Homo sapiens: one gene and its partner. The protein of the gene in region 2 purifies or fractionates together with the protein of the main gene of each other region. This does not show direct contact. Each region holds a gene or a part of one and is shown on either strand. Other genes may lie near its edges. The genes, in order: KDM6A and HOXA3.

Region 1 (3,369 bases), on a different chromosome or scaffold from region 2:
AATTGTTGTAAAATTATTTAGGCTGGTCTCACCCAGGAAAACTGAAAATGATATATGCCAATTTTATAGGAATAAATACTTGGAAATGGAGGGGGGAATGATATGAATATACCCTCATGCAATATATAATGAGCCAAAGGAAAATTTAAAATATTTCATTACCTCCTACTTATCAGGTGGCAGAGCAAACACTGCTGCTTCATAACCCAGCTAACTATGTACTCACATGTTGATTTGACTTACTAATGTAAATTGGTCATAGACTTGCATCAGGTCCTCCATTTTGTACTGTTCTAGCACCACAAAGTTTTCCAAGTTTCCGCTTGTTTTTCGTGCACAATCTTGGCAATGTACTATGTAGGTCTTTCGTGAATTACTCTCATTAGTGACAAAAAGCAGATCAAAAACCTCCACCTGTTTTATACAAGAGAAAAACGTATTCAATAGAGATAGTGGTATTTACTGTACTGCTTTAGTATAATCATGGAATTCTACTTGAATGAAATTGTGGACAGTGATCTCTGGTTAAGAGTAGGTGGTAAGAAAAACATGGCTGTGTTTGAGAATCTTTAACAGACCAGGTTTATTTTGCACCAAATCCAAAGACATGGGTAGTAATGCATATTTAGGGGAATAATCAAAGGGAATGACATACTCATGACAACCACTGGCAAAGCCCAGTTCAAAAGTTTGATAAAGGTCAACCTATTTTTAAATCTAAAACATTAGTATACAATCAGACATAAGTGATCATTTTTATGTATTCATGAGTACAGCATGATTTTAGAAATAATACCTCTATCTTATACAGAAAGATTGATGAGTTGCTAGGGTTCAGGTAGGATAAGGAACAACACACCTAACTGGAATCTATCTGATCTCCTAATGACTCACTTTGGTCAGGCCATATGACATTTAAAAAAAAAATCAATGGATTCTATCATTTCAAATAAAGGTTGATGCTAGAATTACAGAATTTCAAGGTTTGAAATGGACCATCAACATCCTGTCTTTGGCTTATCCTTAAATTTCTTCAATGACAGAAAACTCTTATGATCCCATGTCTTCTTTTAACAGTTAACTACAATCCTAGAGTTCACCATGTTATCCATTACTGTCAACAAGCAGCAATACAAACCTAGTGACCTGAGCTAGAAAATTGGTGAGCATTCTTCAACTTGTCCTTCCACTTCTGCCATTTAATGAGGTGTCTCGCTGATTTTACCCTCTAAATATTTTTGAATTCTTTCCCTTCTTTAATATTCCCATTGCCAGGTTCTAGTCTAGGCCTTAAAATAACTTTTTTTTTTTTACAGGTACTTTATTTATTTATTTATTTATTTATTTATTTATTATTATTATTATTTTTTTAAATTATACTTTAAGTTTTAGGGTACATGTGCACATTGTGCAGGTTAGTTACATATGTATACATGTGCCATGGTGGTGCGCTGCACCCACTAACTCATCATCTAGCATTAGGTATATCTCCCAGTGCTATCCCTCCCCCCTCCCCCCATCCCACAACAGTCCCCAGAGTGTGATGTTCCCCTTCCTGTGTCCATGTGATCTCACTGTTCAATTCCCACCTATGAGTGAGAATGTGCGGTGTTTGGTTTTTTGTTCTTGCGATAGTTTACTGAGAATGATGGTTTCCAATTTCATCCATGTCCCTACAAAGGACATGAACTCATCATTTTTTATGGCTGCATAGTATTCCATGGTGTATATGTGCCACATTTTCTTAATCCAGTCTATCATTGTTGGACATTTGGGTTGGTTCCAAGTCTTTGCTATTGTGAATAATGCTGCAATAAACATACGTGTGCATGTGTCTTTATAGCAGCATGATTTATAGTCATTTGGGTATATACCCAGTAATGGGATGGCTGGGTCAAATGGTATTTCTAGTTCTAGATCCCTGAGGAATCGCCACACTGACTTCCACAATGGTTGAACTAGTTTACAGTCCCATAACTCTTAAGACCACTGCAATAGCTTATATATCGCTGTCCTTTCCAACCACTTTTCTCCCTGAAACACATATCTTACTTACCCTTAGTTGCCTGCTCAAAACCTTTTAATGGCTTCAATAACCTTGGAATATCAAATTCCTTAAAACCATTCAAGATGTGCTATAAATTAAATGCCACCTAGACTTATGAGCGGAATTTGCACAGTCTGTGTTCCAGCCAAATCGGAACACATTCAACCTTTTCTAAAACCATTTCATTTCCCTGTTCTCTTCTTGTGCCTATAGCCCATGACAGTCTACCTCCGATTCTCATCACTTTTTTAGTCTACTTGATATCATACTCTTTTTTCCAAGGATGGACTCAAATGCTAATACGTTTGTGAGTTCTTATGCCAATACTAGAAGAAAAAATTAGGTCATTTTCCCCCTCAGTGTTATCATTAACAGGAAGTCCAACTTCACATTCATCATAGTCTCATGTACATTACAATTAGTTGTTTATAATCTGTCTGCTCCAAGTAGAATTTAAGCTCCTTCATAGGAGGCACCACATCTTTGTTCCTGCACCTCTTGCAAGCCTTGGCCACACAAGATTGACAAATGTATTGTTAATTGCACCAGAGAGGACTGATAATCGATCTGCCTAGAGTTACACCAAACATCCAGTTTATTGGCATCTGTGTACATCTAGATTGTTCTTAGTTTAAAATCTCAGACTAAATTTGCTGATTATTGTCTGTTGAAGATCTACCACAAAAATGACTCTGCAGTAGATACTTTTAAGGTTAATTCACAGTGAAATATCATTATTATCACACTGAATTTTAATATAATGGCTAAGCAACAAAATTGAATCCAATGTTAATTACTATAAACTGGATTACATAAAAGTATAAAAAAGTTTTTTAAAAATAAAGAGAAACCAACAGTGGAGAGGGAAGAGGCTTTATAAAACAACTGTGGATAAAAACAATTACTTACTTCACAAATGCTACAGTAATGAGCTGGTTCTTCTTTTGTCCGCCCATGCCATATAATCTCTTTTCCTGCAGCAATGAGAGCTTCCCTCAATGTCTGACATTGCTTCAGAGTTCTTAGAAGACAATACCTATTGTGGGGGAGAAATTATTTGTGACCAGCAACTGAATATTGAATATTTTTAGCATAAAAGATATACCAACTAGAAATAATGCCAAGAGACTTGATTCTAATGTCTATGACTTCATAATTTTTCTTTCATCAATTTATCAAATATTCTCAGATTTTAAAATGACAATGCTCAGCAGGCCTGATGAAGACAATATTAAAACATTTAAAGTTGAGAAAAGTAATATCTGGATATCAAAATATAATGGTCTTAGTACATAAAAACTGACTCCCTGCTTAAATGTGAG
Region 2 (3,823 bases):
TTAAAAAAAAAATTTAAAATTAAAAAAAGTAATCGCTTCCCCTCGGGAGCCATAATGTAAGAACAAATTCACATTGAAAACTCGACTAGAAAATTTGTTCATATACCCTGTTTCTGATCAAAGAGTGGAGAAGGTAAAGGGTGCAGGGCCAGTGGCCTATCGAGGAGCAGGAAGAGATAAATATCGCTATGATACAGCCATTCCAGCAACCAAGATTGCTACGTCACATAAACTATAAAAACGCCTTACCAACGAGGGGGGAAACCGGGAAACGGAGTGCGGGGCGGAGAAGAGAGAAAAGGAAGGAAGGAAAGGGCAGGAAGAACCTAAAAAAAAAAAAAAAAAAAAGCAACCAAAGAAAAAAGGTGGGTGGGGGGAGACTCTCCTGGCGCGTAGCCCCAAGCCCACTATCACAGGTGGGTGAGCTTGGGTGCTTCCTGAATTCTTCCCTGAGAAGGATGGTGGCCGGTAAGGTCCGTGTAGGTGGGGTGCGGCTCCCCAGGCCCCGGCCCGTGGTGGTGGCCGCTGCCCAGCGGCCCGGCACCCCCATAGTCCATGGCGCCCGAGGCAGCGTGGGGGAGGTGAGTTAGACCAAAGAGGGCTGGCCCGGAGTTGCTCATGGGCTCCACATAGCTGCCCCCCACGAAGACGGGGCTTCCCTGTATGTGTGGGGTCCCATAGCTGCCGTTGCCCTGCAGGCCATGAGCGTGCGGGTCATAGTCGGGGGTGCCCCCTGCGCCCGCCCCTGCCGCCGTGTAGCGCTTCTGTGGGGGTGGCGGGGGTGCGCAGCTGGGCAGGGACGCAGGGTAGGAGGCGGGGGGCAGCCCGTAGGTACCCTGGGGGGGCTTGGAGAAGGGCGGGGGCGACTGGGGCTCATACGGGACGCTGTTGACCAGCGAATGCATAGAGTTCAGATAGCCACCGGCTCCGGGGGGCACGGGGCTGCGACTTGGAGACTGGCCCCCCGATGACGTTAGCATGCCCTTGCCCTTCTGATCCTTTTTGTACTTCATGCGGCGATTCTGGAACCAGATCTTGATCTGGCGCTCAGTGAGGTTCAGCAGATTGGCCATCTCCACCCGGCGCGGCCGGCACAGGTAGCGGTTGAAGTGGAACTCTTTCTCCAGCTCCACCAGCTGCGCGCTCGTGTAGGCCGTGCGCGCGCGCTTGGACGAAGCCTGCCCCGGCGGGCTCTTGTCGCCAGCGCAGCTTTCGCCTGCGAGGACAGAGAGAGGAAGAGCGGCGTCAGGGGCTGCCGCGGCCCCGCCCAGCCCCTGACCCAGCCCGGCCCCTCCTTCCACCAGGCCCCAAAGGTTCCTGCATCCGTCAGGTCCCAGAGAGAAGTAGGAACTAGGTGCTATCCTCTCTCCTGGTGGGTAAAACAGTGATACTCCCTCATTTAGCCAAGGAGCAAATCACAGCCTTCTCGGGGGAAAGGACAGAGAAGTAGAACCCCCGGTTTGCCTTCCTGGTCTGGATTTTCTGTTTAGAGCTATTAACTTTCTGACTCATTTACTGGTCCCTTTGGCCTATCGGACAACAGCCTCCCTGTGGGCCGGTCTCAGCATCTCCATTCTCTTCACAGTAACTGAAATGTGGGAAACCTAATGTACACACTCATTTCCCTCCCACACTGTCTGACAATAATTAGGCAGTAGCTTCAACTGGCCACTTTTTTCTCTCTACCCAGAGGAGATGGGCAGACTGGAAACCTCAAACTGGAAGGCCTTCTCTGCCCAAAGAAGAGATCCCATTGAAGGTATTTCTGGTGGGGAGGCCTAGGCCCTTCATGCTAGGTCCTATTCTTTAGGGTTCCCTATGTCATCAAGCAGCCAGCCCCAGCTTTTGTCCACTAATCTTGTACCCTTCTGTCTTCCCTGGCCCCCCAGATCCTAGCTCTGGAAGTCCCAGATGCTCAGGCTCAGAGCAGGGCACTGGCAACTGGAGAAGGCAGGGGCAAAGGTAACCAAAATGCTAGGAAGCCTAAAGCCTGGGGCCTTTCCTCTACTGGAGCCCGCTTTCAGGAGGCCCATGTGGTTCCCATTAGGATGATAAGTCTGCATCCCCCTCCCCCAGGAGATCTTTGGCTGCTTTCATTGTACTAAGTCTGAGTAGGGTCTTCCCAGAGGTAAGGCAGCCACTCCATCTGCTGGAGCAAAAATTGGCTCTGATTATAGGCAAAGCATTGATTCTGTCTTGGAGGGTGATTAGGCCTGTTTTTATTCTGCCACATTTCAGTAAGGGGAGGATGTCACTGTTTCATTAGAAGAGCTGTGCTAAAAAGATAGACAGTGGAGCTCAGGTTGTTTCTGCACAGAGGTCCTAACTCCAAGAGTGGAGCAAGAAGAGATTCCAACTGCACTAGACCCTACTTGCCCTTGGAGAAGTCCAGAGGGACTCCCAGCAGGTCTCTGGTGTTTTCCAGCCTACAGAGGCCTATCACCTCCCTAAGTTGCAAAGACTATGAAAACCTTTTTGGTGGGCAGTGGTGTGGGAGCAGTGAATTCCAGACATGCTCCATCGCTCCTAGGCTGTGCTGGATGTCGTGGGCAGTAGCTTGGGGACCAGGAGCCAGGCCAGAGGACCCTCTTCCAGAAGGCACTCCTTTACCTGAGCTGGAGCTGCTGGTTTTCTGCTTTGTGTTTTGTCGAGACTCTTTCATCCAGGGGAAGATTTGTTTGGCCACTGTGGGTGAGTTGAGCAGGGGGCTCTTGGCCGCGTTGGCAGGGGTAGGGTTGTTGCTGGCATTCTGAGGAGGGGAGGCAGAAGAGGGAGGCGGGGGCGCGGCAGGGGTAGGTGCAGGGGGCTGAGGTGCGGGCTGAGGCGGCTGTGGGGCAGGGGGCGCGGCCTGGGGCGGCGGCGGGTGCAGGGGCGGCTCTCCCAGGCTTGGAGGCTGGCTAGGTGGGGCGCTCAGGGTGCGCAGGCACGCCTCACTCAGTTCGTGTGCCTTGGGGTGGCCCCCGGCGCTGGAGGGAGACTGGAGGGAGCAGGCGGGTCGGTGGTACTCGCCGTCGGCGCCCAAAGCGGCGGACGCCGGGTACGGCTGCTGATTGGCATTATAAGCGAACCCGTTGGCTGCCTGGTAGGGGTAGCCACCGTAGATCGCCGAGCTGTCGTAGTAGGTCGCTTTTTGCATCGCGTTGTTTCACGATCTTGATCGCACACTCTGACAGGGGTTTGACACCCGTGAGGGCGCACATTGGCACGCCCCCGCGGTCACGTGACACTCCGCCGCCAATGGCCGCCCCGCGCAGACCTGGTGGGGCGAGAAGCGCAGCGCGGTGAGGGCTCCGCGCAAATCCATCTTACTCTCAATAGCTAAGTGACATGAAAGCCATAAAAGAAAAAGTGGTCAGCAATATTTAGCAGCACGACTTGGCCCCGGGCGCAGGGAGCCGTGCTATAAAAAACCGCTGGAATTTACTGGCAGCTACAAATATTTGCTTAACTTGCGTCTGGAGTTGGGGGATTTTCCGGGGAGAAGGAGAATGAGTGAGGGCTGCAAGCTGATTCTCAGGAGCCGGGATCCAAAAGGAGAAAGGCTTGATAGGCTAGAAAGGAAAAAGGCTGGGATCTTTCTTTTCCAGGGAAGAAGAAACTTGGGGTGTCGCTTAGTTTCTGCTCCTTGGCCTCCTCCAGAGGGCCCAAGACTCCTCCACTCTGGGAATGTTGGGAAGGGAACGAGGAGGCAAAGGGGAGCTTGGGTCGCCAATGTTTTCTCCGCTTTAGGACTGATGTTTGCCAAAAGAGCCCTGAGATGGGGTAACTTCCCACCCAGCTCCTTCTTGGACCTTCCTGCTCCCAAGAGAGGTTTGCACAAAAA

Evidence for each region.
Region 1: the proteins of HOXA3 (region 2) and KDM6A purify together in Homo sapiens (affinity purification with western blotting, with the first as the bait; one study listed by BioGRID). This does not show direct contact.

Annotation. Positions count from the first base shown.
Region 1 is NC_000023.11:45,107,124-45,110,492, reverse strand, and holds part of KDM6A (lysine-specific demethylase 6A), read right to left. Parts: intron 3,084-3,369; coding exon 2,957-3,083; intron 415-2,956; coding exon 244-414; intron 1-243. UniProt on the Homo sapiens protein: Histone demethylase that specifically demethylates 'Lys-27' of histone H3, thereby playing a central role in histone code. Demethylates trimethylated and dimethylated but not monomethylated H3 'Lys-27'.
Region 2 is NC_000007.14:27,107,505-27,111,327, forward strand, and holds part of HOXA3 (homeobox protein Hox-A3), read right to left. Parts: intron 3,257-3,823; 5' UTR 3,137-3,256; coding exon 2,611-3,136; intron 1,217-2,610; coding exon 411-1,216; 3' UTR 1-410. UniProt on the Homo sapiens protein: Sequence-specific transcription factor which is part of a developmental regulatory system that provides cells with specific positional identities on the anterior-posterior axis.